Homo sapiens: one gene and its partners. The protein of the gene in region 6 interacts with the protein of the main gene of each other region in a biochemical or structural test. Each region holds a gene or a part of one and is shown on either strand. Other genes may lie near its edges.

The links.
Region 1: the proteins of WWP1 (region 6) and RTN4 form a complex in vitro, tested with the Homo sapiens proteins (one study listed by BioGRID).
Region 2: the proteins of WWP1 (region 6) and ERBB4 form a complex in vitro, tested with the Homo sapiens proteins (one study listed by BioGRID).
Region 3: the proteins of WWP1 (region 6) and DVL2 form a complex in vitro, tested with the Homo sapiens proteins (2 studies listed by BioGRID, with this or other methods).
Region 4: the proteins of WWP1 (region 6) and ARRDC1 form a complex in vitro, tested with the Homo sapiens proteins (one study listed by BioGRID).
Region 5: the proteins of WWP1 (region 6) and LATS1 interact in a test that uses a peptide from one of them, tested with the Homo sapiens proteins (one study listed by BioGRID).
Region 7: the proteins of WWP1 (region 6) and RNF11 form a complex in vitro, tested with the Homo sapiens proteins (one study listed by BioGRID).

What each region holds. Positions count from the first base shown.
Region 1 is NC_000002.12:55,040,452-55,043,951, forward strand, and holds part of RTN4 (reticulon-4), read right to left. Parts: intron 1-3,500. UniProt on the Homo sapiens protein: Required to induce the formation and stabilization of endoplasmic reticulum (ER) tubules. They regulate membrane morphogenesis in the ER by promoting tubular ER production.
Region 2 is NC_000002.12:211,380,803-211,384,302, forward strand, and holds part of ERBB4 (receptor tyrosine-protein kinase erbB-4 isoform JM-a/CYT-1 precursor), read right to left. Parts: intron 3,259-3,500; coding exon 2,813-3,258; 3' UTR 1-2,812. UniProt on the Homo sapiens protein: Tyrosine-protein kinase that plays an essential role as cell surface receptor for neuregulins and EGF family members and regulates development of the heart, the central nervous system and the mammary gland, gene transcription, cell proliferation, differentiation, migration and apoptosis.
Region 3 is NC_000017.11:7,228,180-7,231,517, reverse strand, and holds part of DVL2 (segment polarity protein dishevelled homolog DVL-2), read left to right. Parts: intron 1-323; exon of another isoform or gene 324-637; intron 638-720; coding exon 721-790; intron 791-1,087; coding exon 1,088-1,233; intron 1,234-1,362; coding exon 1,363-1,472; intron 1,473-1,574; coding exon 1,575-1,710; intron 1,711-1,839; coding exon 1,840-1,930; exon of another isoform or gene 1,931-1,968; intron 1,969-2,070; coding exon 2,071-2,140; intron 2,141-2,243; coding exon 2,244-2,383; intron 2,384-2,472; coding exon 2,473-2,549; intron 2,550-3,338.
Region 4 is NC_000009.12:137,608,686-137,612,185, reverse strand, and holds part of ARRDC1 (arrestin domain-containing protein 1), read right to left. Parts: intron 1-3,500. UniProt on the Homo sapiens protein: Functions as an adapter recruiting ubiquitin-protein ligases to their specific substrates. Through an ubiquitination-dependent mechanism plays for instance a role in the incorporation of SLC11A2 into extracellular vesicles.
Region 5 is NC_000006.12:149,659,102-149,662,601, forward strand, and holds part of LATS1 (serine/threonine-protein kinase LATS1), read right to left. Parts: intron 3,138-3,500; coding exon 2,628-3,137; 3' UTR 1-2,627. UniProt on the Homo sapiens protein: Negative regulator of YAP1 in the Hippo signaling pathway that plays a pivotal role in organ size control and tumor suppression by restricting proliferation and promoting apoptosis.
Region 6 is NC_000008.11:86,466,775-86,469,003, reverse strand, and holds the end of WWP1 (NEDD4-like E3 ubiquitin-protein ligase WWP1), read right to left. Parts: intron 2,211-2,229; coding exon 2,111-2,210; 3' UTR 501-2,110; downstream 1-500. Other genes in the region: RMDN1 (regulator of microtubule dynamics protein 1), read left to right, coding at 297-328. UniProt on the Homo sapiens protein: E3 ubiquitin-protein ligase which accepts ubiquitin from an E2 ubiquitin-conjugating enzyme in the form of a thioester and then directly transfers the ubiquitin to targeted substrates.
Region 7 is NC_000001.11:51,267,273-51,270,609, reverse strand, and holds part of RNF11 (RING finger protein 11), read right to left. Parts: intron 655-3,337; coding exon 485-654; intron 1-484. UniProt on the Homo sapiens protein: Essential component of a ubiquitin-editing protein complex, comprising also TNFAIP3, ITCH and TAX1BP1, that ensures the transient nature of inflammatory signaling pathways. Promotes the association of TNFAIP3 to RIPK1 after TNF stimulation.

The DNA of each region.
Region 1 (3,500 bases), on a different chromosome or scaffold from region 6:
TAGGTCACCTCCATCTACGGTTGTCAGGGCACTGAGATAAATGAACTCAATAATGGCACCTTCCATTTAGGCGAGTTTATAAATCAACCTACAAAGTTGGGGAGAAAGAACACGTAGGCAGACCTGGAATCCTTAAGTAAGCTTCTCTCTTTCCACAAAAGCAGTTCACAGATCTGTAAATATGTCCTGTAAGGCCAATCACAAAACTCCTCTGGTTTTAAGAGCAGAAAATTCTTTACAACTAAGGGCCTGTATTTTTTCCTTCATCTGCTACCTATACCTCTCATAAGTACAACCTCTATTCATCTTTCTTGTCCTCTTACTCAGCCCTAGGCCTAGTTAAAAAAAAAAAGGAATATATTAATTTTTTTCTTAATATTGAACTTCCAAGAGACCACCAATATAAGCAGCAACTCCAAACTCTTGAACAACAAAACTTTATAAACTTTCTGTATCTGTGGTAACAATTCCATCAATGAGAAAAACAAGCTATTAAAGAAATAATTATTTTTGAAAAGTAGAGGGCCACCTATGTAAAGAGACTGCTTTAAAAAAAAAAAATCCAGTATTTGGCAGCTATAGCTCCTAATACAAGAGTACAGAGAATATTTCTTTCTTTCTCAACACAATTTTTTTTTTTTTTTGGAAATGAAAAAGCAGGAAGACTTAGCTTTCTTTCTCAGTCAATTATCAATTGAAAAGAGAGAGCCAAATACCTGTATAATTCAGTATGTTACAAGGAGGCTAGAATATTTATTTTTAAAAGTCTCTAGTTCACCTAATTATATGCTAAATTTTTTTTAAATACATGTTAATAAAAACCACGTGTTTATGGAAAAATACACAATATCAACACCGAATGTATTTCAATTCTCCCCAAAATTAATCCATAAATGTAATGCAACCTACTAAAACTCCAACAGAGGGAGAGGGGACAAGATAAAAAAAATTTTAAGATGAAGTAGAAAATTATACACACATAAGATAGCCAAGAAAAATATTTATGGAAAAGCCGTTTAGCTAGTATTTAAAAATTATAGCACAACAGTCTGATACTTCTGTGTGAACTGACAGATAAATGGAAAAGCAGAGGAAATATTTCACCCATACTACAAGAATATGACAAAAATGGTACTTCAAAGTGGTTAAGAAGGATAATTCAAAATAAAAGGTATTGGAACAAATGGGAAATAATCTTGAAATATAAAATTATTTCACTACTTCACTCTCTAGAACAAAACAAACTGCAAATAAATCAAATAATTAAATGTTAAAATGAAATCATAAAAAGTATAAAAGTACTTACTAGGAGTAAACATGGGGGAAAATTTTTATGATCCTCAAGAAGGATTTTCTAAGGATTACATAAAACTCAATGACTTTTTTCACTTTTATGACTCAAAGTCATAAAAGAAAATGATAAATCTGACTACATAAAAATTTCTAAACAGAAAAACATACCATATGGTCAAAATACAAATAACAAATCAATAAAAAGTTTTCAAGACATATGACAAAAGGCTAGTTTCCTTACAATGCAGATTAAGTGAATCTACATACATGAGACCAAAAACCCAAAAGAATAGGCAAAAGCTGTGATCAGAAAAAATTTGACACCTAAGCCTATGAAAAATGACTCAAATTTAAAAGAACAATTTGCTAAACAATGTATTAGTTCACTAATATACTGTGTTGGTAAAGATATAAGGGAAAAGGTACCTTAACAGGTTGGTGGGAATAAAGGTTGGAACCATTCTTTGAATGACACTTTGGCATTAGCTACCAACATTTTAAATGCAAATATCCTTTGAAGCAGTAATTCTACTTGCACAGATTTATCCTACAACATATATAATGGCATGTATTCCCAAAGAAGTGTATACAAGAGTGTTCACAGAAATAGTATTTGTAAGAGAAAAAACTAAGTATCAACCTAAATAACCATCAATAAGGGACTGATTAAATAAAATATGGTACATCCCCAGAGTCCTCTGCATCTATTTTTGTGGAAAATAAAGTGAAAAGGATATACATGTATAAATAAATATTTATCCACAGATTATCTCTAAACAGATACTCAAGAAACTACTAACAGAGGGTGGATCTACAGAAGACAATTTGTGGAAATCTGGGTAACAGGTAGAAAGAGTTACTTTTCTGTGTATTCTTGTAGTACTGTTTGGAATTGTTACCTTGTATACATAAATAAATAAATGCTTTCGTAAGATTTGGGATTTTTATTGAGAGAAGATATTATAGTAATTCTAGAACTATACAGAATATGAAGATCAGCATCTTTCTCATTCAACAAACTGAGTGCCTATCACATCTAAGGCACTGCAATGCAGACACAATGCATACAGTCCTTTTCCTCAAAGAAAAAGGTCACAGCACCTTTCCTCAAGGAGTACACTGTCTGGTGGAGGAAAGAAATCAGTAACCATACCATTACCTTATATAGAATGATATATACTATGAAGAGGTAAGAACAGAATATTATGGAAACACGTGATGAAAGCAACTTAAAAATCAATGATCATCATTCCAAGAAACATAAATATCAATAGCTTAAATATGAAATTATCAACTCCTCCTTTGGGGTTAAAAAGGATGATGATGGCATTAGTCTGAGAAAATCTTAGCATCAGTAAAGCTGGGTCTCATCATTTTGCATACCTATGTCCTGCACTAGCTATCCACAAAGGTCACATTCATTCAAACACTACTGAGAACTATGGTTTTACCATTACAGTTCCCATCCCTAGTGCTGTCATCCTCAGAAGAACCTGATCCCTTTAGAAACAGGAACAAAAAGTCTCAAAGAATGTACCATAAGTATAGTATATCTGCAACATTTACTTCTATTTATTTAAGGGTTCCAGGGAAGAATCAAGAAATAGCCATTCAGTTTATACTTTTATCCTGGGCTAGCAAAGTACCTTAAAAAGGAACCATTAAATTGAGGCTTTGAATCAAGTTATTCTAATAAGTTGCTTGAAGGTATATTATGAAAATAAATGGCGGGGCACAGTGGCTCACACCTGTAATTTCAACACTTTCAGAAGTCGAGGTGGGAGAACTGCTTGAGCCCAGGAGTTCAAGACCAACCTGGCCAACATAGTAAGACCCCATCTTTAAAAAAATAAAAATAAGGCTGGGAGCAGTGGCTCACACCTGTAATCCCAGAATTGTGGGACACCGAGGCAGGTGGGTCACCTGAGGTCAGGAGTTCAAGACCAGCCTGGCCAACATGGTGAAACCCCGTCTCTACTAAGAATACAAAAATTAGCCAGGTGTGGTGGCACATGCCTGTGGTCCCAGCTACTCGGGAGGCTGAGGCAGGAGAATTGCTGGAACCTAGGAGGTGGAGGTTGCAGTGAGCCAAGATTGCGCCACTGCACTCCAGCCTGGGCTACAGAGCAAGACTCCACCTCAAAAATAAAATAAAATAAAAATAAAAATAAAAATATATTTAGGCTGGGTGTGGTGGCTCACGCCTG
Region 2 (3,500 bases), on a different chromosome or scaffold from region 6:
TTAGGAGGAAAGAGACATTCACTAAATACATTTCTGTTACCTTAACAGTTAAAAGTTTGTTTTAACTATTCATTTTTTCCTTCTCCAAAATGAGTGATTCTGCTTTCTATAGCCCAGTAGAAACCATATGCATATTGTAAATCAGAAAAAAAAAATCAAGGTATAGTATCCAAAAAGAGGGCTGTGATGACTCGATGCAGATTTATTTAGAAAGGGAGGCTTATATTCAATTTTTCATAAGTACTGATATGAGATCCCTTTTCCTAGAGACTTCTCTGAATGGATAGGAGAGCCCTGAGCTATTAGATTGTGGCCCCTGAATCACTCTGTGTCTTTACCCCTGAAAAGTTTGAGGGTGAACTTCACTAGAAGGAATCTCACAAACCCTTCTCCTGCTCTACCATACTTTTTCAGCTCGCCTCACTTCTTATAGCTTAGAAAAAAACCAACTCCAATGTCTCCAATATTCTTGGCCAAGGACCACCATCTGCTTTTGGTTTAATGGTGAAGTTAGACTCTAGATAGGCTAATTAGTCAGTGATGCAATATTCTCCTAGACCAGTTTATGTTTGAATAATATTATTGAAATTATCCTGTTTGTCAACATCAACAATTTGAAGGATGTTTAACTTATATCCCAAATGAGTTTAAAGGAGATATCTTACAGTACAACTGATTATATGACAGCTATTCACAAAAGAGACTATGCAATCTGATTGTTGGAACGCATAGAAAAATTAAAATGTCATTTTAATTAAATCTCCTAGATCATAGAATTTTGAAGTTGAGGATGATATTCCATTTATCTGAGTGTTCCCCACAAAACATGGTGCTTTTAGTAGACACAGTTAGATAAAGGAGGTTTGGATGGATGGATGGATGGATTTACTTGTTCAGAATAGGAAGAAACACAAATTTCTTTGGATTTTTTTCTCTAAACTTTCTCTGCCTTAATAGATATTTTTACTCTAATTAATTAATCTTATACTATTGATTCTAATTTGGTCCCAATATTTTAACATTAGAAATATTTTTTAAAAATCTAAATGACTTGGGGTAGAATTTTCAGAAAAGGGCGACTTATATCTAAGTTTCCTAATTATTGATGTGAGGCCCCCTTTACTTGGAGACTCATCTCTGTCATTTGTTCTCATCCTTCATCTCATCAGGTATTCTTTCAAAATGATACATAATAATGATGGTTCTAGTACTGGATGCAGTATATGAAGAAAGGGAATTATATAAAGTATCAAAAGATTAGTGTGTTGGATAATAAAATAATTGCATGAGAAGATGTTTCACATTTATTTACAACTTTTGACCCAAGGACCTATCCCTAAGCTTTGAATGTTTGTGTTTTTCTTTTTATTATACCAATTTATGTGCAAAGAGTTACCTTCTACTTCATATAAATAGTCTCATACTAGAAATTCCATGGAATTCAAGCCAATCCTTACTCGCATTCCTTCTTACGAAGTATACGAACTGAACAAATTTCCTTGCGTAGCAAAGGTGACATATGAAGATAATGTGCTGGCCTCTCATCATAGTCCCTGGATACCGTTGCAAGGTTCCTAATTTGCTTGGTTTGGCATTTCCACAGTCTTTATCTTAGCTCTTTTTTTAAAAATGTACTTAAATTAGTTAATTTGCTGGTTGCTTCCATATTGCTTGATTCAAAATCCAAAATGGAGTTCAGAAAAAGAACAAATAAAATTACAGCTTAAGTGCAAACTACATTTCTGAGTATCTGCCAGGTAGACATACCCAATCCAGTGTGTTTCTTCCAGTTCAATGGATTCCCTCATTGGGCCACCCCTGAAAGTATCAGTAGTTTTCCTGAACCACAGAGAACTGTCTCTTAGTTTCCCTTCTACTCTTCAGACAACCAACGGCCTATCAAGTAGTGTCATTTATGGAGAAAAAAAAATGTTGAAAAATGTAAAGGATGAGGGTGAAGATAATTTGATAGCATGAAAAATATTAGCCTCCCTTTCTTATTTTAAAGATTGTATACTTAAAGTAGTGGCCATTTCACTATATTAAAATATTTCTTGCTTAAATTCTGTGAAGAAGCTTTGATGTAAACATCTTTGCAATTAGAAATTAAAGCCAAAAATAGGGGAGCAAATATAAAGGAATCGGTCAGAGCAAAACAAAATGAAAAAAACCAAAAAGTGTTGAAAACATAATTACTAGTTATAACTTTAATGGAGATTTTTAAATTATGAAAGTTGAGTTGGCCATTCTTACTTGCTAGGACAGAAACTGCTGGGGAAAGAAACTGGATTCTCAATTTCAGACACCATCATATGTTATAGAAAATGTTATTCTTTTGTTCTAATGGAAACTTTATTATGATTTCCAGGGATGCTAAATATGCACACATCAGTTCCTGCAGATAGGAACAGATAGCATGGGTGTTTCAACCATCTGCTTTAAAAAAAAAAAAAAAAAAGAAGAGGAAGAAAGAAACAAAGAAAGAAAAAGAAAAAGAAAAAAAGTGACAGCTAGTTTGATAGTAGGCAGCATTGCCTTACATTTTCTGGTCCTTCTCTAGCTGTTTCATTCTCCTGACCAACCCATGCAGAGAAATGAAGAAACATTGTGGTTCCTCCTATCTTTCTCTTTCAGTCTTTCCCTCTAATGTTCAAGTTAGGTAAGCACATAACTATCATTGCATCTCTGTATCTTCCACTGGGAAGTGTCAAAACTACTGGCCTTGGGGTAGAAGGAAGACCACCAGAGAAAGAGAGGGGGGTGGGGAAATTGGAGCAGGTGTGTCTCTCCACCTAAAAAACCACAACTGAGCTTACACCACAGTATTCCGGTGTCTGTAAGGTGGAGGCGGCAGCACAGTGCCTGGCTTCAGGGAGAACTCAGAGAGGTATTCAGGATTCTCTGCCACAATAGGCCGGATCCGCCCATTCTGTTTATAAAAATATTTTGTGCTGTACTCCTGCAGGTAGTCTGGGTGCTGAAGGGTGCTCCGAGGTGGCAGGCTGTGGTTCCAGTAGTCAGGGTTGTCAAACGCTTTCTTGGCCTTCTCTGGCATTGACAGTATGTTGTTCTTCAGGTACTCAGCTTTTCCCAAGGTGTTGGCAAAGGTGTTGAGGTACAGTGGCTCATTCACATACTCATCCTCGGCCTTGGGTGGACCATTGGATGCATTGTGATATTCGGGATTATCCAATGCTTGAAGGTCTCCATTTTTTCTCCGAGAAACAAAAGGGTTCTCCTCCACTGGATTCAGGTATTCTAAAGGAATAAAAAAATATCAGCTAACCTCTAGTTTCTGGAAAATATTAATCAGACCAAGGTTATACATAATGGTTAGCTTCTTTGTCTAGAACAAAAAAACCCACAGATTTGTTTTCATGATTTCTCACAACAAGTATTTGTGGATCACCATTGTCTTATGAAAAAAAGAGTAAGTGGGTCAAAAATGTTTATAATAAAACAAGAAGCCAACGAGGCCAGAATCAGAATTTCTATCTCCT
Region 3 (3,338 bases), on a different chromosome or scaffold from region 6:
GAAAGTATAAGAGTAGAGGCTTTGATGAGGACCAAAGCCTTTTTTGGAAGGTTTTTTTTTTTTTTTTTTTTGAGCCGCCCAGGCTGGAATGCAGTGGCGCGATCTCGACTTACTGCAACCACTGTCTCCCGGGTTCAAGCGACTCTCCCATCTCAGCCTCCTGAGTAGCTGGGATTATAGACACCCACCATCATGCCCGGCTAATTTTTGTATTTTAGTAGAGATGGGGTTTCACCATGCTGGCCAGGCTGGTCTTGAACTCCTGACCTCAGGTGATCCGCCCGCCTCAGCCTCCCAAAGTGCTGGGATTACAGGTGTGAGCCACCGTGCCTGACCTTTTTGGAAGGTTTGTAAGGAACAGGGGTGGGGTTGAGAGGAGGCCACCAGCCAGTCTCATTAGATAGGTATCTCAGGCAGCCGCATCAGCGTGCGGGATTGCTTTTGAAACTGGACTAAGAGGTTTGAGTCAGACTCAAGGAAGTCTTTGGAGCAGCACTGTGCCCCTGAGGGTGCGTTAGGGAGAGGAGAAATAAGGAAAGGGGATTGAGTTTGGAGATTTCTTAGGTGTCGGAGTGAGTTCTTTCAATGTAAGAGAAGACCTGAACAGGGCAGGAGAAAGTCAACATCCTGGAGCCAGGTGAAGATTGGGAGAAAGTTTGATGGGGGTCGGGGTGGGGATGGTTGGTCCAGCTCACTGACCTCTACCTTGTCGCTTGGCAGGGTGGTGAAGGAAGAAATTTCAGATGACAACGCCCGCCTCCCCTGCTTCAACGGAAGGGTGGTATCCTGGGTAAGAGGTTCTGACACCGAGGACCAGGCCCCCTCAGCATTGCCAAGCTCCCTCAAGCCTCAGTCTGTTTCTGTATCCTCCCCAGGCCGCGCGTTAGCAGCCCTGGCTCTTTACCTCCTGTCTGTTTGGAGAGCCGGCGAGAGGCCCTCAGCCTTCTCCTTCTGGAGTCTCTAATACTTGCTAGGTTTTTTTGCTCTTCTCCAGCTCTCTGAGACCCTTTCTCATTCTTTCACTTACTGCCACCTGTCACACCCTGACTCCCAAGTGAGCCACTGTTTATCATTTGCACCCTTCTAGCTGGTGTCCTCAGATAATCCCCAACCCGAGATGGCCCCTCCAGTCCATGAGCCTCGGGCAGAACTGGCGCCTCCAGCCCCACCTTTACCTCCTTTGCCACCCGAGAGGACCAGCGGCATTGGGGACTCAAGGCCTCCATCCTTCCAGTGAGTCCTTCAGATTCTTGACTGCAGGGGAGGGAGGTGAGGAGGGAACCCAGGCCTTTGGTAGGGGACGCCTAGGATCCGGAGCCCTGTTCTCCTGATGTGGGTTGGAAACCATCTCTGCCTGTCCAGCCCTAATGTGTCCAGCAGCCATGAGAATCTGGAGCCTGAGACAGAAACCGAGTCAGTAGTGTCACTGAGGCGGGAGCGGCCTCGCAGGAGAGACAGCAGTGAGCATGGCGGTGAGGGGCAGGCCTGGGGGCCGGGAAGGGCTGGGCCAGACCCCAGCCTTGGTGGGGTGAGCAGGGGGAAGCTTGGTTCTTGAGCTTCCTGTCCATATGTAGCTGGGGGCCACAGGACTGGTGGCCCCTCAAGGCTGGAGCGCCACCTGGCCGGATACGAGAGCTCCTCTACCCTCATGACCAGCGAGCTGGAGAGTACCAGCCTGGGGGACTCGGACGAGGAGGACACCATGAGCAGGTGTGGCTCCGCACAGCTCTCCCCAGCGCACCCAGCCCCGTCTCGTCTTCCAGTCAATCCTCTTGTTCTTTCTCTTGGCCCCATGACCACTTTGGCCTACGTTTGCTCTCCTTCCCAACCTCCTGGTAGGTTCAGCAGCTCCACGGAGCAGAGCAGTGCCTCCCGCCTCCTTAAGCGCCACCGGCGGCGAAGGAAGCAGAGGCCACCCCGCCTGGAGAGGGTGAGGGGTTCCTACAGGAAGGCTGGTGCTGGGAGAAGGTGGGGCATGGGCTTTGGTTTGGGCGGTGCCAGGACACCGGCAGCACCCCAGGGTTGACCCTGGGTTATTGAAGGGCACTCTGGCTCCTTTTCCCACCACAGACGTCATCCTTCAGCAGCGTCACAGATTCCACAATGTCTCTCAATATCATCACAGTCACGCTAAACATGGGTATGGGGAGAGCCTGTGGCTAGGGCGTGGGGAGGGCCTGGTCTCTAGGGTTCCGGGCGTCCTGTGGCAGGGGCTCCTCTTTTCACATGGCCTCTCTCCACAGAGAAGTACAACTTCCTGGGTATCTCCATTGTTGGCCAGAGCAATGAGCGGGGAGACGGAGGCATCTACATTGGCTCCATCATGAAGGGTGGGGCTGTGGCGGCCGACGGGCGCATTGAGCCAGGGGACATGCTTTTGCAGGTGTGCTGGGGTAGGGCCACTGAGCTGCCCTGCACGGGGGCCCTCAGCCTCTCCCACCGTGTCTCTGACCCACTTGCCGTCGCTTCCAGGTGAATGACATGAACTTTGAGAACATGAGCAACGATGACGCTGTGCGGGTGCTGAGGGACATTGTGCACAAGCCTGGGTGAGTTGCCAAGCAGGTTGCCGGTCCTCAGTCCTCTTTTTTTTTCTCTTTCATGTTTTGTTTTGGAATTTTAATAAGTACTAAGACAGCCGGGCGTGGTGGCTCGAGCCTGTAAACCCAGCACTTTGGGAGGCCCAGATGGGTGGATCACCTGAGGTGAGGAGTTCGAGACCAGCCTGACCAATGTGGTGAAACCGTGTCTCTACTAAAAATAGAAAAATTAAGTGGGCATGGTGGCACATGCCTGTAGTCCCAGCTAGTGAGGTGGCTGAGACAGGAGAATCACTTGAACCCTGGGGGGTGGAGGTTGCAGTGAAACGAGATCACGCCACTGCACTCCAGCCTGGGCGACAGAGCAAGACTCCGTCTCAAAAAAAAAAAAAAGTGCTAAGACATAACGTTCAAAGTACATGAAACAAATGCATGACATAGCAAATAATACTAGAGTAAATATCCATGTCACTGCCATCTAGATCATCAAATAGGAGATTGCTGATACCCTAGAACTTCCTCCTCAGATGTCCCTTCCTGCTCCCAAATGCCTCACTGCCCCAGGGGTAGTCACTCTCCTGACTTCTTTGGCCATCACCATAACAAAGAAAAGCTTTGCCTCACTGGATAGTTACCACCCTTGCACGTATCCTTGAACACTGCAGTTTCGTTTTACCTGTTTTTGGACTTTCTGTGAATGGAACTGTACAGCGTGTACTCTCTTGTCTCACTTGGCAGTATGTTTTTAAGAGTTTTCCATGTTGATGAGTCATCCACATTGTGGTGCCTTCCACCCTC
Region 4 (3,500 bases), on a different chromosome or scaffold from region 6:
GATCAGAAGATCATGGCTGGACAATCAGGTCCAGCAGAAGCTGGTCACAAGGGAGGACAGACGCAGCAGAAGTACACACAGCACAAGACCCAGGTGGGCAGGGGTTGGGGGAGACAGTGGCAGGCCACCTGCACCTCCAGCCCCTCTTCTCCCTGCAGGGCTGAGTCAGGGCCAAAGATGGCCACCTCCCTGCCTGGTCCTGGTGGGGGTCACGTGAGGAAAAGGTGACTCAGACTCTGACACCTGCTGAGGGAGCAGCCAGGCAGGAGGAGTACCGGTGTGCCGAGCGCCCAGGGTCAGCCATACCTGCCTCACCTGTGGTCTCCCCAGCAGGCCCCACCTGTGGCCCAGGCCTTCTGCCTGCCACCCAGAGCAGCAGGATTCCTCTCACAATCCTTGGCTCAGCCGCAGCCCCACGTGGCTCTCCACATGCATCCTGCCTACCCCTCGGCAGCTGCCAGGCCCAGTCCCCCATCCCTGAGGGTGGCCCTTGCTTCCTGCTGCACGCCCTCTACCCCCGGGCGCTGCCAGGGCCTGTCCTCAGCCTCCATTCCAGCCCAGCCTTGCCACCCCAACCTCGGTCCATTTTTTGTTTTTTTGTTGTTGTTGTTGTTGTTGTTGTTTTTGAGACACGGTCTCACTCCCGCCGCCCAGGCTAGTGTGCAGTGGCACGATCTCGGCTCACTGCAGCCTTAACCTCCTGTGTTCAAGCGATCCACCCATCTCAGCCCCGCAAGTAGCTAGGACTACAGGCACGTGCCACCACACCTGGGTTTTGTTTTTTGTTTTTTGTTTTTCTTATAGAGACAGGGTTTTGCCATGCTGTCCAGGCTGGTCTCAAACTCCTAAGCTCAAGCAATCCACCTGCCTCAGCCTCCCAAAGTGTTGGGATTACAGGCATGAGCCACGGTACCCAGCTCTGCTCTGATTTTGAATCCATGCTCTGTTAGCCAGGCCCTCCTCGGGCCAGACCCCATACTGTGTTCATGCTGAAAATCCGGAACACCAGTAATCCTCCTGTGGACCAGCAGACAGCCCAACAGAAGCACATGGGCATGAGCAGGCACAGAGGAGGGTGGGCGTGGCTGAAGCAAGGAGAGGAGGCCTGGGGACTGGAAATGCTGCCGTGCTTTTAACACTCCTGACAGACTGCACATCCCCACCTTGAATCCCGCAAATGCTGGGACCCAGCTGGGTGCAGTGGCTCACACCTGTAATCCCAGCACTGTGGGAGGCCAAGGCGGGTGGATCACTTGAGGTCAGGAGTTCAAGACCAGCCTGGCTGACATGGTGAAACCCCATCTCTACTAAAAATACAAAAAAGGCCGGGCACGGTGGCTCATGCCTGTAATCCCAGCACTTCGGGAGGCCAAGGCAGGCAGATCACCTGAGGTCAGGAGTTCCAGACCAGCCTGACCGACATGGAGAAACCCCATCTCTACTAGAAATACGAAATTAGCTGGGCATGGTGGCACATGCCTGTAATCCCAGCTACCAGGGAGGCTGAGGCAGGAGAATCGCTTGAACCTGGGAGGCGGAGGTTGCAGTGAGCCGAGATCGCGCCACTGCACTCCAGCCTGAGCAACAAGAGTGAAACTCCATCTCAAAAAAAAAATACAAAAATTAGCCAGGCATGGTGGCACACGCCTGTAATCCCAGCTACTTGGGAGGCTGAGGCATGAGGATCACTTAAACCCAGGAGGCAGAGGTTGCAGTGAGCTGAGATCGCACAAATGCACTTTAGCCTGGGTGACAGAGCGAGACTTCATCTCAAAAAGAAAAAAAAAAGAAAAATGCTGGAACCCACAGAGGATGCCGGAAAGGGGGCAGTGGTCCCCAGACTAACCCGTATGCCAGCCAAGCACCCTCAAGTGATCCCAGCTGGTGGCACAGAACTGAAGATTAACCCTGCCCTCACTGTCCAGATTCCTAACCCACAACGCTGTGAGATATAATAAAATGGTTGTGTTAACTGTTTTAAGAATGGTGTCTGACTTGAGGTGACCGCGACTTTTACGTAGCAGTAGGTAACTGGAACAGATGTCCAACCTCACTAGAAATTACAGAAAACCCGGCCGGGCGCAGTGGCTCAGCCTGTAATCCCAGCACTGTGGGAGGCCGAGGCGGGCAGATCACGAGGTCAGGAGATCGAGATCATCCTGGCTGACACGGTGAAACCCCCGTCTCTACTAAAAATACAAAAAATTAGCCGGGTGTGGTGGCGGGCGCCTGTAGTCCCAGCTACTCAGGAGGCTGAGGCAGGAGAATGGCGTGAACCCGGAAGGTGGAGCTTGCAGGGAAAGCCCAAATGACCTACCATTTCAATCCATCAGATTGACAAATATTAAATGTCTCGACACAGCTGGGCGCAGTGGCTCACGCCTGTAATCCCAACACTTTGGGGGGCCAAGGCGAGCGGATTGCTTGAGGCCAGAAGTGTGACAGCAGCCTAGGTAACACGGTGAAACCCCATCTCTACCAAAACTACCAAAGATTAGCTGGGTGTGGTGGCGCGTGCCCCTGGTCCCAGTCACTCAGGAGGCTGTGGTGGGAGCCCCGGAGGAAGGAGTTGCAGTGAGCCAAGATTGTACCACTGCACTCCAGTCTGGGTGACAAAGTGAGACCTCATCTCAAATAAAATCAATGTCTTGGGGCCAGGCACAGTGGCTCACGCCTGTAATCCCAGCACTTTAAGAGGCTGAGGCGGGCGGATCACCTGAGGTTCGGAGTTCCAGGCCCGCCTGACCAACACGGAGAAACCCCGTCTCTACTAAAAATACAAAATTAGCCAGGCCTGGTGGCGCGTGCCTGTAGTCCCAGCTACTCGGGAGTCTGAGGCAGAAGAATCACTTGAACCAGGGAGGCAGAGGTTGCGGTGAGCAGCTGAGATTGCACCACTGCACTCCAGCCTGGGTAACAAGAGCAACGTAAATAAATAAATAAATAAATAAATGTCTCAACACACGTTGGAGGGAGGTGGAACACAAACACCCCTTATTCCAGTCAAACTGCAGACAAGTACGAGGTTCTGGCAAAGAGTGGGACAGGTCTACTGTAATTTTACCTGTGCATACCAGGAGACCCAGAATTCCGCTTAGAATCTCATGGTATTTAACCGGGAGCCTCACACGCCACTGCTCCTACTAGCAAAGCATCGCGAAAACCGTCATGGGACATTGACTCCACAAAAACAAACAGTATGCAACTGACCCTTGGGTCATCCTAAGGGTCCAGGTTCTGTGATCTTCCCAACGCCCATGCAGATGGCCCCGTTTTGCACATACACCAAGGCTCTTTGAGATGACTCTGCCAGAGTAAGCAGCCTCCAACCACTGTCCAAAGTGAAACCTGTCCCGAGCTGCCCCACACACTCCTCAGTAAGAACACGGGAGGCAAGGGGCTCCCGCACAGCTGCCAGCTGCTTCCCTGCCAAAACACCTGGAGCTGCTCCTCTGCCTCTCAGCAACTGCTTCAGGTCAGGCTGGGTGAATTTCCCAGGG
Region 5 (3,500 bases), on a different chromosome or scaffold from region 6:
CTGATACCAAAGGCATGTATACTGCTTCAGATAAATGCAAAAAGCTTATAGTATCAGAGGAAATTTTAAAAGAATACATATTTGCGCCAGGCGCGGTGGGTCACGTCTGTAATCCCAGCACTTTGGGAGGCTGAGGTGGGCATATAACTGGAGCCCAGGAATTCCACACCAACCTGGGCAACATGGCGAAACCCCATCTCTACTAAAGATACAAAAATTAGCTGGGCTTGGTGGCGCATGCCCAGCTACTTGGGAGGCTGAGGCGGGAGGACTGCGTGAGCCCCCAAGGTTGAGGATGCAGTGAGCTGTGAAGCGCCACTGCCCTCCAGCCTGGGTGACAGAGTGAGACCCTGTCTCAAAACAAAAAACAAAAAAAGAATACAAAATTTGTAGTGTCTGTTACATTTCAGCAATAGGGGGAATACAGATTTTGTGGGAAGGGAAGGGGGAGGAGACAGCACCTTAGTTTTCCTACAACATAAATGTAACAAAGTTATCTTCTACTGTATTGCACCTTAGTCCAAAAGTAAAACAACTAAATGAAAATTTAAATAAATCAGACTGAAAAAGCCCAAAGAGTAAGAGGAATACCTTATAAATGTGACTACCCACCTAAAAATTCTTGAACTACTTTGTTTTGCATAGGATTTTATGGGACTAACCAAATGTTCCATGAACCATGAGGTGAAGACTGCGATTTCATGATAGCACATTGTTTTACAATTCTGATTAGAAATCCTTCAGAAATATTTCTGTATCAAGCTTGTAATGAGCCTAACATTTCAGTCCCCTCCAAATGATATATTAAAACAACTTAATGTACCAGCAAGAGAGGCATTCATAAGGTCACCTTATATCACATGCTACAGACCTTTTCCATCACAAATTATCAGCTTATATAAGATGTGCTGAGTAGTGATTGGTAAGTTAAAAACAAAGTTCTTAGTTTAATGTATCAATTTTCTCATGGCACAGAGGTCCATAACCTACAGCCTGTGATAGGTTTCAATATGTCCAAAATCCCTTGAAACTGCATGCAACATTGTATGTGTATGTGTGGTTTTTTTTTCTAGGAAGAGTCCACAGCTTCCTTCAGATTCTCAAAAGAACCACTAACCCCAAAAGACGCACGATAACACAGTAGTGGGTTTTCAGGCTGAGCTCTGAAAGGACCACCTGTAGAAAGGTGGGAAGTGTGGGCTAATAAGTGTTCTTTGCCCTAACTCTCCAATTCAACTGCAACAGCTCTGCCTTTAATTTTACTACATATACGGTTTCAATTAGCTTTTATGCGAAGAAAGCTAAAAGTATGAAAATCACTAAAATTATGCCTCCAATCTACAAATAGTAACTTTTGATAAAAACAATCCCTTATCAGTGGAGCTTAAGAAAAGGAAATAAAACACAACACAAATTTTACTATGGTCAAAATGGAGCCTTTTTCCCCTTCCTAAAAGATAAGCTACATGTATTTTGGTATGAAACCTTAATCTTCCTTAGAACCTAAGCGTTATACATAACAGGCATGTTGAACGCATTATTGAACCTTAAATAAATTAGGAGGACTTGAATTTTCTACTAAGACCACTCTGTAAACTTTCCTAATTATTAATGGCCATCTTAAGAGTTAATTTTTTCACCAATTAATCTGCGCTTAGGTAAAATATTGCCAGATAGCCAGATTTTCCTTTGCCAATAACAATCTGTATATGCAGCACTGTTCTGAAAGAGGAAACAGGTAACATTGATGATATAATCAAAATAGTTACTATACAGGAAAAGTATATGAAAATTAAAATAATTATCTGCTTAGGATGGTGAGAAATATTTTAGCTTTTAGTATTGAACATTTCGATTTATGGCAGCTTTGTTCCCTTTTAAAATTGGAAGCAGCATCAAAAATACCAATATGGAAAAAAAGCTAGTAGTGCTTTGGCTTCTTTTAAAGCCAGTAATTCTTGAGAAATAAATGCAAGAAGATTAAATAGATTAAATATTCCATGGGGCGGGGGGTGGGGGGGAAGATAAATGCATTATTTTTCCTTCTGACAAACATATTAATATTTTTTCAACCCTGTATTCCTTAGTTTCAGGATGTGAATTATACAGATTATCATTAGCCTAGGAACACTCACCAACACGATGGCTTAATTTCTCTAGCTTATTTTCTACCAAAAACAAGGTTATGAGGGGAAAAAAGAGCTCTGTAAAATAGGGGGTATGTTTCATATTTGGTTAAAGCAAGATAAAACTAAAACTGTCTTTCAAAAAAATTTCAAAAACTCTTGTATTTTAAAATTATTTAGCATATATACAAATAGATACCAGGTTTCTCCTTTTAAACAAAGCACTACTTATTTTAAGTACTTTAAGTACCAAGAACTGACTATAATATTCAGTTCATAATTTACTTTCCTTATAACAATTTTTTTCTAAATACTGATTTAAACGGCTGGAATAAATTAACATTTTAAAAGGATTTCCCATAATTTAGGAAAATAAAATATTGTACACAGAGCACACATATATAGCTCTGTCATATTTGCATAATTTTACTCTCAGAACCTCAAAACACCTCGCATTTCAGGCCCTTTTACAAATCCTCATTACATTTATTTACTAGTGTGTTAAACATATACTAGATCGCGATTTTTAATCTCTGAGCCTGTGTTTTGATCATCTTCATCCGACTGCTGCTCTGAGCCTTGTGAATTAATGTATTCATATTCAATAGGCTTCGGATAATTATATGGGTAGCCATTGTCATCAAAAAACCTTCGGAAGGTAAATTCATAGAATGCATGTTCAGGATGCTTTCCATTTTTATACCATCCATTGAGAGTGTCATTTACATTTTCTTCCTCGTTATCATCACTCCATAATTTATCAGGATCAACAGGATCAAAATTTGATGTATCTGTTGGGTGTGTGATTTTAGGAATGTATGAAGCAGACTGCTGTCTCAGGTCACTGGAGAAGTCAATTGTTTTAAAAAATGGATGAGCTTTTATTTCATCAGCACCATTCTTGCCTAAGCGATCTTCGGGTCCTCGGCAAAGTTTAATAATAAGATCAGAAGCTTCAGGACTGAGTTTAGCTTGTGGTGGAATGTGAAGAGATGTTTGCCAGTTGATAACCTTTAAAGATTTTTTAAAATTAGGGGGAAGAGATAAATTAGAAAAATAAAGATTTCCTTCAAGTTTTATACCAAAAGTCTCACTGGGCTATTTTTGTATTTTAAATAAATTACATGATATTTTGCTGGAAAATAATTTTTTCTCCTATCCCATCCTCTCCAAGCAACTTCTACTCACATTATAAGACTCACTGTCAGTTTTAATCTCCCCTAGTAAACCTTTTGGCCTATGGTAGAAGTGACTACTTCTACTCTGCCTCCCCTGTACCATATATTTATTTCTATCATATTTCTAATAGCTTGTGGTACCTATTTATGTTTATGTCCTACTGAAATATATCCATTAAGGCTAGGGATTATGTTT
Region 6 (2,229 bases):
TAGCAATATAAACCTGTCTCTGAGCCTCCCTCTTGTCTGTTTCCTCATGAACTGTGTTTTGGGCACAGAGAGTCTTGCACTCCTAATTTCTTTCGGTTAGTCCAGCACAGAACAGGAATGGGAAGGGAAGAAGGGGAGAAGGTGAGTGGGGGACCATATTTCTACAGTTTTTCTGACTGCTACTGGGTAGATAAATCAAGAGCTCTGCCTGTAGGTCTTGGATATCTATAATTGGGTATGAAAAGTGGAAGACCCTGATGAATTCTCCAAAACAAAGCTGGTTTTGTCTCTTGTAGGGTTCTGTGTAGCCTCACCTAGTGCATCGTAATTTCTTACTTGAGGGAGACCAGCACCCTGAAAACGAACTGGAAAGCTGCCTTCTTCAGTCAAATCTGCTAAATCATACCTACAATGAATGATATTCAATAACTTCTGTCATGGCAAAATTTATACAGCAGTGGTACCATTTGTAATTCTAATACTTAACTCTTTTATGGTATACGCAGTCCTTTTTGAAGGCCAGTTTCCCTCTATCACATAACCTGTCACATACATTAGAATTTTTTTTTTAATTCTTTAGGCTTGAAAATTACCAGAGTGTTCATAATAAGGATTTGGAAAAGGAGTCTATTCAACCAAGCAGATCTCTGCCTTTCTTTCGTCTTTACTATGAATTCTGAATAAAATGGAGAACACACTCTCAATATGTAGAAAAATAAAATTTTGGCAAAACAATAATTACTGTTTTTCTGTATGTACTTAGCAGTGAAATATTTATAGGCAACAGATTTTAAGAAGTCAGTTCCATGGCTATTAAAAAATGTTTAAGTTAATGAAATTTACAGTGCATATTAAAAGCATGATACAAATGGAAATTTAAAATTTTGTATTAGGAAGCCCAGTTTGCTAAAAGTAGCATTAATATCATTCACATCAGATTTTAATTTGTTACACATTTTTGTAGTTCAGCAAAGGCCCCTATGATGAAAAACAATTAAAAAGTGTTATGACAAAAATAATTATCTGTGTAAAAAGGGGGAGACCCAAAAGATTTTTCATATGGTTATTTAATTCAGTTAAATAGAACTGTTATGAATTTGAGAGGAATGAAGATATTCAAACACTAACAGAAAATCATTAGCCTTATATTAGAGCATTCAAATGCTTATGTAACTCTTCAATCCATCTGGCTTCATAAAAACCAAAATTTTGAACACAAAAAAGTGGCAGAGTTTACATTACCTTTTGTATGTTCCTAAGTATGAAATTGCATCAATTTATTATGAATTAAATTTGAAAAGCATCACAGATTTAAAAACAAAGTACAAAAGAGCCTGATTCTTTTTAATTCCACAAATACCTAGCATCTCAAAGTAACATGTAAACAAACTTCTATGCTGCTCAATGAATCCTTCCAATTTCGATAATAAACTAAATAGTATTGGATCTAGTATATGACTTTCATGTGTAAGTTATGGTTCTATCCATTACTTTAACAATATTACTGATGTAACAGAGAAAAATTTTCAACTATTGTATTTATTTAAAACAAACTGACAAGTTCAAGCACCTGTCTTCAGAAAAGCCAGCAGCATTTTTTTTTTTTTAACATACTCAAAGTAAGATTTGGCCTAAGCCCTTAATACCTTTCTGAACAGCCATGCAACTAAACACCCTCAGGAGATGTTACATAAGGGAGAGAAGAACATGGAGCAATTTGCACTTTTTCCCCTAGATAATATTAACAAGGTAAAGCAAATCCAGATCTTTATGAATGAATGGCTGTCATGTTTAATACACTTGGAGCTCTATAAAACTAGAGCCACTATCATATATGTTTATATAGATATATATGTATTTTTAATAAAGTCTCTCACTTGCTTCAAAATTTAAGGATGATCTTTTTCCTGGTCAGTCATTTCAAGGGAACAATAAATAAAGTAGAAAAGGATGAACTGTTTTGCATATTTCTGTGGAAGAACGGAAAACATACTTTGAGAGGTTCGGAAAATTCACTGTACAGAATGAACAGCTTATATACACTATCTGTGCAATTTTTCTTGGCTGGGGTATTTAAATGCAAGAGCTCCTCCAAAATAAGAAGCCACATTCATTCTTGTCCAAATCCCTCTGTCTCTTCTATTGCAAAAAGAAGTTTTTCCTTTAGTTGTTCATAACTCTTATATGGTGGTAGATCCAAGCGATTAAAACTGAACAGAAACAAAAACA
Region 7 (3,337 bases), on a different chromosome or scaffold from region 6:
TGCTGTAAGTTAAAGCTCTCTTCATTAACACTAACTTTCTCTTATTTTACTTTATTTTACTTTTTGAGACAGAGTTTCAAGTGATTCTCCCACCTCAGCCTCCCAAGTGGTTGGGATTACAGGCGCGTGCCACCATGCCTGGCTAATTTTCGTATTTTCAGTAGAGATGAGGTTTCACCATGTTGGCCAGGTTGGTCTCGAACTCCTGGCCTCAAGTGATCCCCCGACCTCAGCCTCCCAAAGTGCTGGGATTACAGGCATAAGCCACTGTGCTCGGCCTGTGAAAATTCTTAATTACTACATAACATTCTCTTGCTAGTAGCCAGTAATAGAGCTATGAAAAAAAATTAAACATTCTCTTGCATTAAGCGAAGTGTTTCAATATATTAAATGTCTGACTTTCTAAAGTGCAGGAGAAAAGGCAAATTTTTCAAAAGCAATCTGAAAATAAAACTTTGAAATGTACAAATTAATTAAAACTTACTCCCGGATCTTTTTTTCTGATCCATCTCTTCCAGGGTCATAAACTCCTTTAGGCAGATGTTGTATAAGACCTATTCTTTGAGCTATCCTAATTTGTTCCTCTTCAGTCAGCTGAGTTGCTAGCCGAGTCTGGCTAGGTGTTGGGTGGTAGACTGGAACTGGAACTTGTTCCTAAAATATTAAAATATAGAGGAAAAAGATTATTTTTTAAAAACCTTTCGAGGGCTTATTTTTTGGTCAGAGATAGAAGGGAAAGGGAGCCCTGGGAGGGGTAGGAAGCTGGGCTAGTGTTTGGCTGTATGACTGTGTTTCACCCTGCCTTAACTTCAGCTACTAGAATAAAACATACACACACCAAAACATTCTCATTCTGCCTAAAGGATATAAACACAGACTTCACTGAACTGGCATGGAATGTTAAATGAACTATTTCCACATGATAAGAGACCAGCCTGGACAACATAGCAAGACCTCATCTCTAAAAATAATTTTTAAAACTTTTTAAATGGACTGGACTATGGCAAAAATAAATCTAAAAGTTATCTAAGACTAACTTTCCCATTTCATAGGACCAAGCTTGCCTACAGTCACTAATTGACAATACTGAAATTAGAATTCTGCTGCTCCTAATCCAACTGATTTTTTACACAACAAAACAATTCAAAGGAATCGTGTGTATAACCCCCACCTTTTTTTGAGATAGGGTCTCCCTCTGTTGCCCAGGCTTAAGTGCAGTGGCACAAACACAACTTACTGTAAACTCAACCCCCTGGGCTCAAGCAATCCTCCAACCTCAGCCTCCTGAGTAGTGGGGCCACAGGGTTGAGCCATGGTGCCTGGCCTATAATAATATTTAAAACTGAGCAACTCTGATGGAATGAAGCTGGGATGGAGTGTGGCCTAGAAGGGATGAGGCTCCCCATCCCCAAGCCCTCACCTTGGTTACCTTTGCAGAATCCTCAGAATCAACAGAGCAGTCTGAAAAACACTACTATCTCAGAAGATGAGATTTTCAGTCTGAAGAATTAAATTATAAGATTTCAGTCTCAGCTCGGCTACTTACTGTGATTGCTTGGACCAAGTCTCTTAATGTCTTTGAATAAAGCAGATAACAGTACCCACTTTAAAGAGTTGATATAATCATGAGATAACTAAGAGCTTTGTAAATGCCAATATTTGTAAATTATTCTAACATCTCCCCAACGTCATGATTCTCCCCATCATGATTCTCTGCTTTGCAGACTTTAAGCTAAGTGCTACTGTCCTTGGCTTTGGTCCTGGCTTTCTGGCTTCTCTTTGAATACTACAAACTCTTGGACTCTGTTGTGATCTCTGCCAGCTCTGAGTTCTTCAACCCTTGAATTACCATTTCCAGTCTAAATTACCTTCCTGAATCTTAGCCTCAGTCCTAGTTGACCAGTTTTGATGAGCTGTCATCCACACGCAAACTGGGAACAAATTGGTTTAAGACTAAGATAATATAAAGGGTCTCTTAAATCCTTGAACCTAACAAACAAAAATAACTAAATTGTTTTAGAGAAAATAAACTCCAACTATGGGTTTTTCAGAGGCTAGATTTCTTCAGTCTTGTGGTTCACATACGTGTAGAGAACACAGAAAGCAGAACAGAAAAGGAAAGTTCTACTTTACGGGGAAACATTAATAAACATTAAAGAAGAAAATAAAAACTATATTTTAATTCACGTTATGAGTGTATTTTCTCCTTTGGTATTTTTTTGTTAAAACAAAGGAACCCTCTCTATATCTTTTAGATATTTAAAATGATTGAACAATCTAATTTCAGTTTACATGGTTCAGAAAACCATAGAGGAAAGGAAATGACTAAGACCTCCTGATATTTTAAAGATGAATGTGGCCTCACCCTTCTTACCACACATGCCTAATTTTAAATTTTAATTCCCATGATACTTGTTTTAAAATGGCTTGATATCTGAGTTATCAATTGTTTCATAACTAGACAGCCACTGATTTTCTAGGCAGCAAAATGGAATCCTGATTCAATTGTTGGCTAACAGACACTGAGTGAGTAGAAGATTAGACAGGGGTATAAAAACAACAATTTTAAAAGATGTGATGGCTGGGCATGGTAGCTCATGCGTGTAATCCCAGAACTTTGAAAGGCCGAGGCAGGCGTATCACCTGAGGTCAGGAGTTCGAGACCAGCCTGGCCAACATGGTAAAACACCATCTCTACTAAAAATACTAAAATTAGCTGGGCGTGGTGGTGCACGCCTGTAATCCCAGCTACTCAGTAAGCTGAGGCAAGAGAACTGCTTTAACCCGGGAGGCAGAGGTTGCAGTGAGCCAAGATCTTGCCACTGTACTCTAGCCTGGGCAACAGAGAGAGACTCCATCTTAACAACAAAAAAAGATATGGATTTGGGGGTGGTTCCCACCATTCCCTATCTGCGAACACTATATGGTTTATGTTCAACACCTGCTTCCCCTCTGAGAATCAGGAATTTTGTCATATGCTAGGCAGTGGGTGCCTAATCAGTACCTGGGGCACTGAGTCTCCAAATGAGCTTCTCTGGCAGAAAACCTTTCATATATGTTGAAGGAATTAAGCATGTCCTGTGTGACTCCACTAGGAGATAACTCTTGGAAGCTTGTGCTTAGTTCCCTTTAGACCAAAGCACCTTTCCCCTTAGCTGATTTTGCTTTGATTCTTTGCTGTAACAAATCATAGATGTGAGTAAGATTATATACTAAGTCCTAAGAGCCCTCCTATTGAATCACCAAACCTGGGGACTGTTTTGAGGACCTCCAACGCCAGTGCTAGGTTGTGCTCCCACTTTATATTTGCAAAGCTACTGTGTTTCGTCCCCAGCTG